Linked DNA regions of Homo sapiens. Changing the gene in region 2 together with the main gene of any one other region gives a genetic interaction. Each region holds a gene or a part of one and is shown on either strand. Other genes may lie near its edges. The genes, in order: CHEK1 and MET.

The links.
Region 1: changes in MET (region 2) and CHEK1 together harm fitness more than expected from each alone (negative genetic interaction), as found in Homo sapiens cells (one large-scale study listed by BioGRID).

Annotation. Positions count from the first base shown.
Region 1 is NC_000011.10:125,638,661-125,642,485, forward strand, and holds part of CHEK1 (serine/threonine-protein kinase Chk1), read left to right. Parts: intron 1-3,825. UniProt on the Homo sapiens protein: Serine/threonine-protein kinase which is required for checkpoint-mediated cell cycle arrest and activation of DNA repair in response to the presence of DNA damage or unreplicated DNA.
Region 2 is NC_000007.14:116,674,893-116,678,717, reverse strand, and holds part of MET (hepatocyte growth factor receptor isoform b preproprotein), read right to left. Parts: intron 1-3,825. UniProt on the Homo sapiens protein: Receptor tyrosine kinase that transduces signals from the extracellular matrix into the cytoplasm by binding to hepatocyte growth factor/HGF ligand. Regulates many physiological processes including proliferation, scattering, morphogenesis and survival.

The DNA.
Region 1 (3,825 bases), on a different chromosome or scaffold from region 2:
ACATGGTACAGGTGTCCTCCTTATTCTTCATTGTCACTTTCTCCCATCTTCCTTTATGTCTCTCCCCTCTAACTTTTGAACCCCAAATTAAAATTTCTGCCGTACTATCACAGTCTGCAAAATGACTCTTGATGTTATTTTCGTCATGATTCTTGGTGATTTAAATATTTATTTGGATCATCCTCCTGATATCCTGACTTCACTGTTTCTTGACCCTCTCTCCTATAGTGATGTTGTCTTTGAACACGCTGCACTGATCACCAGTATAATTTTTTCTGACTTCCTCCCTTAATATTCTAACTTAAACAGTCCTTTGTATCTGGACTTGCAATTAATTAATTCTATCTCTTCAGTCTCTTACCTGCTCCCTCTCTAGGTCCTTGATTTCATCTTTACCTATCTTAAATCTTTAGGTTAGTCATTATAAATGACTGCTTTGCGTTCATCATCTTCAATTTCCTTGTCCCCTTCTCTCTTCATCATACTTAGTGGGTAAAACCCAGTAAGTAGTTTCTGGGTTTAATCTAGTAGTTTTCTACGTACTGCACACTTGTACCTGCACAACAGATTGCAGCAGGAGAAAAATACCCAAAAATGTTCACTTTAAATTCAGGATTACTAATCTCAAGTGGGCCCTTAATGCTTCCTGGCATTTGGCCTTCGTTTCCCCACATCTTTCTCTGTCCTGTTCTCCTAAATCACGTTTTTATAATACTTTTCTCTTTTTTTTTTTTTTTTTTTTGAGACAGGGTCTAGGCTGGAGTGCAGTGGCGCCATCTCCACTCACTTCAACCTCTGCCTCTCAGGTTCAAGCGATTCGATTCTCGTGCCTTAGCCACCCGAGTAGCTGGGATTACAGGTGTGAACCACCACACCTGGCTAATTTTTATATTTTTAGTAGAGGTTTTGCCATGCTGGCCAGGCTGGTCTCAAACTCCTAGCCTCAAGTGATCCCCCTGCCTCAGCCTCCCAAAGTGCTGGGTTTATAGGTGTGAGCTACTGTGTCTGGTCCCTTAACTTTTATTATCTTCTCTCCATCCTCACTCTCAGTTGTTCACTTTGCTTCCTGTGTCACTGGGAAATGAAAGCCACAAGAGAACTTAGGCAAGCTCCCACCACCATCTCCTCCATACTAACTGCCTCTATGCTCATGTATTCTCTTTCATCCTGTATTGCTGTAGATAAATTGCTCTGGATGTAAGCCAGGTCTTTCTCTTACCCACTCAATGACTTTGTCTAGCAATTTTTCTCCCTCTCCTACATTATTAATTTTTCCTTCTCTACCGGATCTTTCTCATCAGCATATCTACATGCTTTTTCTCCCATTTTAAAATCAAATCATAATGGTAATAAAATTTCTCTTAACTCCACTTTTCCCTACCATTCCATCTTCTTCACAATTGAATATTCCTAAAATTGCTTCTCATCTCTAACACCTCAAAACTAGTTTTCAATTTCATCTATTTTGTTGCCAAGAGTCACAGTGATTTTTGGAACGTGTTGCCAAGTTCAATGTAATAGTCCACTGTGGTCAACCGAGGTCTGAAAAGATTAAATGGAAAGTACCAGAAGTAAACAATTCATCAATTCATGGGTTTTGGCCGGGCGCGGTGGCTCACGCCTGTAATCCCAGCACTTTGGGAGGCCAAGGCGGGCGGATCACGAGGTCAGGAGATCGAGACCATCCTGGCTAACACGGTGTCACCCCGTCTCTACTAAAAATACAAAAAATTAGCCGGGCGAGGTGGCGGTCGCCTGTAGTCCCAGCTACTCGGGAGGCTGAGGCAAGAGAATGGCGTGAACCCCGGGGGGCGGAGCTTGCAGTGAGCCGAGATCGCACCACTGCACTCCAGCCTGGGCAACAGCGAGACTCCGTCTCAAAAAAAAAAAAAAAGAAATTCATGGGTTTTATTTATTTATTTAATTCGAGACGGGATCTCGCTCTGTCGCCCAGACTGGAGTGCAGTGGCGTGGTCTCCACTTACTGAAACCTCTACCTCCTGAGCTTAAATGATCCTCCCATCTCAGCTTCCCGAGTAGCTGGGACTACAGGTGTGAGCCACTATGCCCGGCTAATTTTTGTATTTTTGGTAGAGATGAGGTTTCGCCATGTTGCCTATGCTTTTCTACCAAAAATACAAAAATTAGCCAGGTGTGGTGGTTCACGCCTGTAATCCCAGCTGTTCTCAAACTGCTGGGCTTAAGCAATCCACCCACCCCGGCCTCCCAAAGTACTGGGATTATAGGCATGAGCCACAATGCCCTGCCATAGGTTTTAAATTGTGTGCTGTTCTGAGTAGCATAATAAAATCTTGTGCTGTCCTACTTCATCTCACTTGGGATGTGAATCACTCCTTTTTCCAGTGTATTCACGTTCCATGTGCTACCTGCTTGTAACTCCCTTAGTAGCTGTTTTGGTTATTAGATCGAAAGAACATATATAGGGTTTGGTACCATTTGTACTTTCAGGCATCCACTTGAACATATCCCTCTGTGGATAAGGGGGGTACTACTGTAGTCAGTTCTCAGACCTCTTGTTTTATCTCATCAATATTTTATACAGTTGATCATGCCCTCCTCCTTTAAACACTTTCTTCATTTGGCTTCCAGGCGTTACACTCTTCTGATTTTCGTCCTTCTCACTGGTCGCTCTTTTCAGTCTCTTGATGGTTTTTTTTCATCTGCTCAGCCTCCTACTATTGGAGTTCTCCAGGGCTGAATCTATGGATCTCCTTTGTTTTCTTCTCCACACTCACTCCATTAGTGATATTACTTGGTTTCATGGCTCTAAATAAAACTATATGTTGATAGTCACATTTATATCAACCTAGACCTTTCCTCTGAATTCCAAACTTACATGTCTTAACTGCCTTCTGAAATTTCACTTGAATGTTAAGAGGCATCTCACACTTGATGAATTCCAAACTGAGTTACTGATCTTTTCCTTTCAAACCCATTCCTTTTCAAAGTCTTTCCCATGTTGGTTAATGGCAACTGCATTATTCTTATTATGCAGATCAGAAACTTTGGAATCATCCTTCATTTTTCTCATTCTCTTTTACTTCACATCCAGTACACCAGCTAATTCTGTTAACCTCTATCTTTAAAAAAATCTTAGAATCTGATTACCTTTTTTTTTTTTACCTCTACTGTTACCCTATCATTCCAAATTACCATGATATCTTTCCAAAATGTTCTGATTTAAAAGTGAATTAGAATATATCACTATTCTACCCAAATCCTCCAATGCTTTAGTTCTCACGTGTAGTGTAAGCTAAAATCAGTTCATGACCTGTGAGTTCTTACACAATTTTGTTCCTTACATTACCTCTCCAACCTCAGTTCTGCTTTGCTCCCCCTTGGTCATATTGTTGTTCTTCTTATTGTTCTCCAAGTGCTCTAGGCACACTTCTACCTCACTGTTTTTGTAGTGACTGTTCCTATGTCTGAAAATGCTTTTTCCCATGGGACTTATTTGCATGTCTTATTCTCTTACTTTCTTTGGATATTGACTTCAGTGTCATCTTTCCAATAAGCCTTTCCTGGCCATGCTATTTAAAATGGTATCCTCTTCCCTCTAACACATTTCTTAAATTTTTAAAATTTTTACTCTCTTGTGGACATACGCAATCCAACACGTTTCTTCATTTTATTTTCCTTCAGTGTACTTACCACCATTTAGCTTACTGATTTTTAACTGTATTTGTATTTATTTTATGTTATTTTGTCTCTCCTCAGTAGAATGTAGGATTTAAAAGGTCAAGAGTTTTTTTTCTATTTTGCTCACTGCTGAATACCTGATACCTAGAATAATGCCTGGCACAG
Region 2 (3,825 bases):
TCCCAAGCAAAGCCAAAACCTATTTTTAAAGCTAGGTTGAATTGTCTTATGGACCCAAACCTTGGCTGGGTTTTCCTTTCCCACATGATTAGGCCTCAAAGGAGGCAACCTATCTCTAATAAATTTACCACTTCTCTTTTTCTCTGACTTGCAAAGACCATATTATTTCAAAGGTCTCAGCTTTGAATGTCTTTCTTTACATTTTTAATAAAATATTAAAAATTAGAAATCTTCCACGGTCTTATCAAACAGTTATTCCCCAAGTCATTCTTTTTTAAAAAAAAACATACATTTTCAAATTGGACCTGAGAGTCTAGGTGCTGCCTCAGAATTCCAACTATTAAGGAGTAGGAGACCATTTCAAAACAGGAATAGACCACTGATCTTAATATGTATACTGTATGTGCACTGTTTCATGATATATTATTATATTTGCATTTAAAATAGTAGGAAGAAATACAGTACATAATCTCCCTTTCTAACACAGTGGCCTTCTGGAGGGCTGCTAGCTTGGGCATTTCACTGAGATTTTAGGATTAAAGGAAACAAATTAGTGCACAACCTGTGAGCTTTTATTCCTTTGGAAAAATAGATTTTAACACTGATCTGATTGCTTTTAAAGGGCACTGGAAACCAGGAGGGCAGTGCATGTTTTGAATTTCAATGGCAGGGTAATAACAACGGGTGAAGTTCAGTCATTTCCAGAGACAGAGACAGAGAGAGAGAGAGACAGAGAGAGAGAGAGAGAAAGACAATATTCCAAAGGGGGAGTTTATCCTGAATCAGAGAACTTGGAAATGAAATTGATGCATAAAGCCATGATGGATTCAGGTTTCAGAAAACTACTACTTCAGTTTAAGAATGAAATAACTAGATTACCCTTTAGTTTAGAAACGTACATAGTTTGATGTAAAGTATGTGGGCTGATGAGTTTAGAAAAATAACCACGTGCCAATAGGAACTGACATAAAATATTGGTTTTAAAAAATTTGTTTAGTTAATTTTCTGAGAATTTTAGAAAATAAAATATTTTGTAGAAGCAGTCCTGGGGCTCTCGGGCCATGCATGCTGCTGCAATTGGGACCATCAGGAGCCCAATCTGGCTTGCAGACTTTCTGCCACTGTAAGCTGTATGGTGTTTTAAAGACACTGAGTCAACATTTTAAAATTGGGAGAGTCCTAGCTTCTCTTGAAAATCTGAAAGATACTACCACATGGGCCCATGCCATACACTGAGCCTCACAACAGCTCTAATCACGCCAAGCAGTGACTGCCCCTCTGCTTTTCCTAAGCAGTTTGTCAATCCCTAGTGAAATGGTTAGTTTTCCTCATTTAAGTTACCTGTTTGCAAATCTTGATACAGGATATAAATAGGGGAATAAGGGAAAAGGAAGAAAAGAGGAAGAAAATCCAATGCAGTGACTTAATACTGGAAAGGAAAAGGAAGGAGAGCGAGGGGGAAAGAAAGAAGTGCATAGCAGACAGAAGCTGCACACCATCAGCAACTGCCTCTTGCTGTCTTTAGATTTATACTATGGAAGGGATCAGTGAAAAAAGCCATGGGTATCCTTCTCAACAAATCCCACTGTGACAGGCTCACAGTGTGGAAAATAAGAAGGAAAATTGTCTGAATGGAGCAATATCTCTGATAGAGGATGGAGTATGGGATGGGACCAGGCGGATGCAAAACAAAACAAAACAAAACAAAACAAAAAAACAAAAAAAAAAACAAAACAACACTCTGGGTCTTCTTCTTCCATGTCTCATAAACCAAGAGATGTGGGCCACTCCTGTATCTTCATCTTTAACATGGTAGCTAATGATGGCAGGCACTGTCCAGGTATTTCCCTACAAAAACAGGGGCACTATTCAGGTATCTCCCTCCAAAATCAGGGAGTCTATGGACAGTTGTGCAAGCTGTGAACTGCACAATTTCAGGAAAAACAAGATGAGAATAGCACTCCTGAGAAGTGCTCCTCATATGCGCCTGGCTCACTTCCTTATCTCCTTCAGATTCTAGCCCAAAGCCCACCTTTGAAGACAAGCCTTCCCTGACCTCACTATTGAGTTTTTCAATCACCATCCCACTCTCTCTTATCCTTGACAGTCACTATTCTCTTTTCCATTTTATTCTACCTTGAAGCTATTATCATCACCTGACATACAACACATTTCAGTTATGTATTTCTTTATTGTTTGCCAACTCAATAGAACAGAGTGTCATGAGGTTAGAGGTTTTCATCTGTTTTATACTCTGTGGAAATGCCAGATTTTAGAACTATGCCTCGTAGGTTGTCAAAAAATTGTCCTGAATGAATGACTAAATCCTCATTCACATTCTTGGAGTACAGGAACCTGGCTTTCACGATAACTTGTGATTCTCTAAGCACATTTCATAATTGCTATCCTTAATTATATTAGGAGAGATACATTTTCAAATTCTATTGCCCATTATATAATCGCCTGTGGGCCCTATAGCTACATAATTTATTATAGAAATTAAAATCAATGGGAGTAACCTACATAAACATACTTGCACACATTTATGCAATCACAGAGAGAAATATGTGTACCTGGGTATGTGATTACAAAGTTAACTTTTTTATTTCACTGAGCTCATACCTCCTGCTACAAATGCCACACGTGATTTTTTCTCTCAATTAAGTTTTACAGCTTATAAAAGCACTTTTTTCATTTTGTCCCATGAAAAGCAAAGTAGTCAGATTTTACTGGATGTTTTTATTGAAACAAATCCCAAGCGGAATATACTAACCTGTTTAACACAGCTGAAAAGATATCTGAGAATGGGCTTTCTGATAGAAGGATAGATTACAAAATTATTCACGGCTCTTAATCTGATAACAGGAGCAGAATGCCCCACACATATGAATGAAACCTTTTCTCGGTATGTCTCACTACAAAGAAAAGAAAAAAAGAAAAGAAAAGAAATTAAAAAAAAAAAAGAGAGAGAGAACTGGAGAAAGAGAAGGTGACAAAAACTCCAGGGACTAGATATGTTATATTCATCATTTACCACTATCTTAAGCATCCCTAATGATGCCTCCATGGAAAATGTTTCCAATAGTTGATGGCTGAGGAAAGGTGGTATGGTGCTATTGAAATAGCATGGAGCTAGTCTCAAGCTCAGTTTCCTTGTCTATAACATAAGAATGTTAAGATGTTATCAGACTTGCCTATCTTGTAAGGTCGTTTTGGTATCAGAAAGGTGATGTATGCAGAAACAGCTTGAAAATGTTAAGGTTTTTAAGTTCCAAACTTTGATTTTTAAAAAAAAATTCTATTATTTCATAGCAAATAGGATGATTTTGAAAGCGTTTCTCATGTGATGTCCTCTTAATAATTATGAATTTGTGTTCATTTAATATGTGATATTTGTCTGTGTATCTAGATCATAAACTTCTCAAGGGCAGATTCCATTTCTTTCTTTTAAAGAAAATGCTGTAGTACCTAGCACATATGATACTCTACCTATAGGTCCTAGCTATTTTTGGTCAGGCAAATGTGGATCTAGCAGCAACTCAGTGTCAGTTGAGAACACATCATCAAAGTGATTCTGAACTAACATTAGTCAGTGTATCTATCATTTATTACTGAGAAGTGACTATTTATTTTGCACTGAGCAAAACCCATGAAGAAACTCTGCCCTAAGGGCTTGGTGTCAAAAACACTAGTTTCAGCATACACCAGCCAGGAAAAGAAGGCTCACTTCCGGACACTTGAGTTTCTACATACATTTTCTCCCCTTAAGAGGGCACAATGAGGAAATTGAGTATCCTATGAATAAACACAGCAGACCAAGGAAAT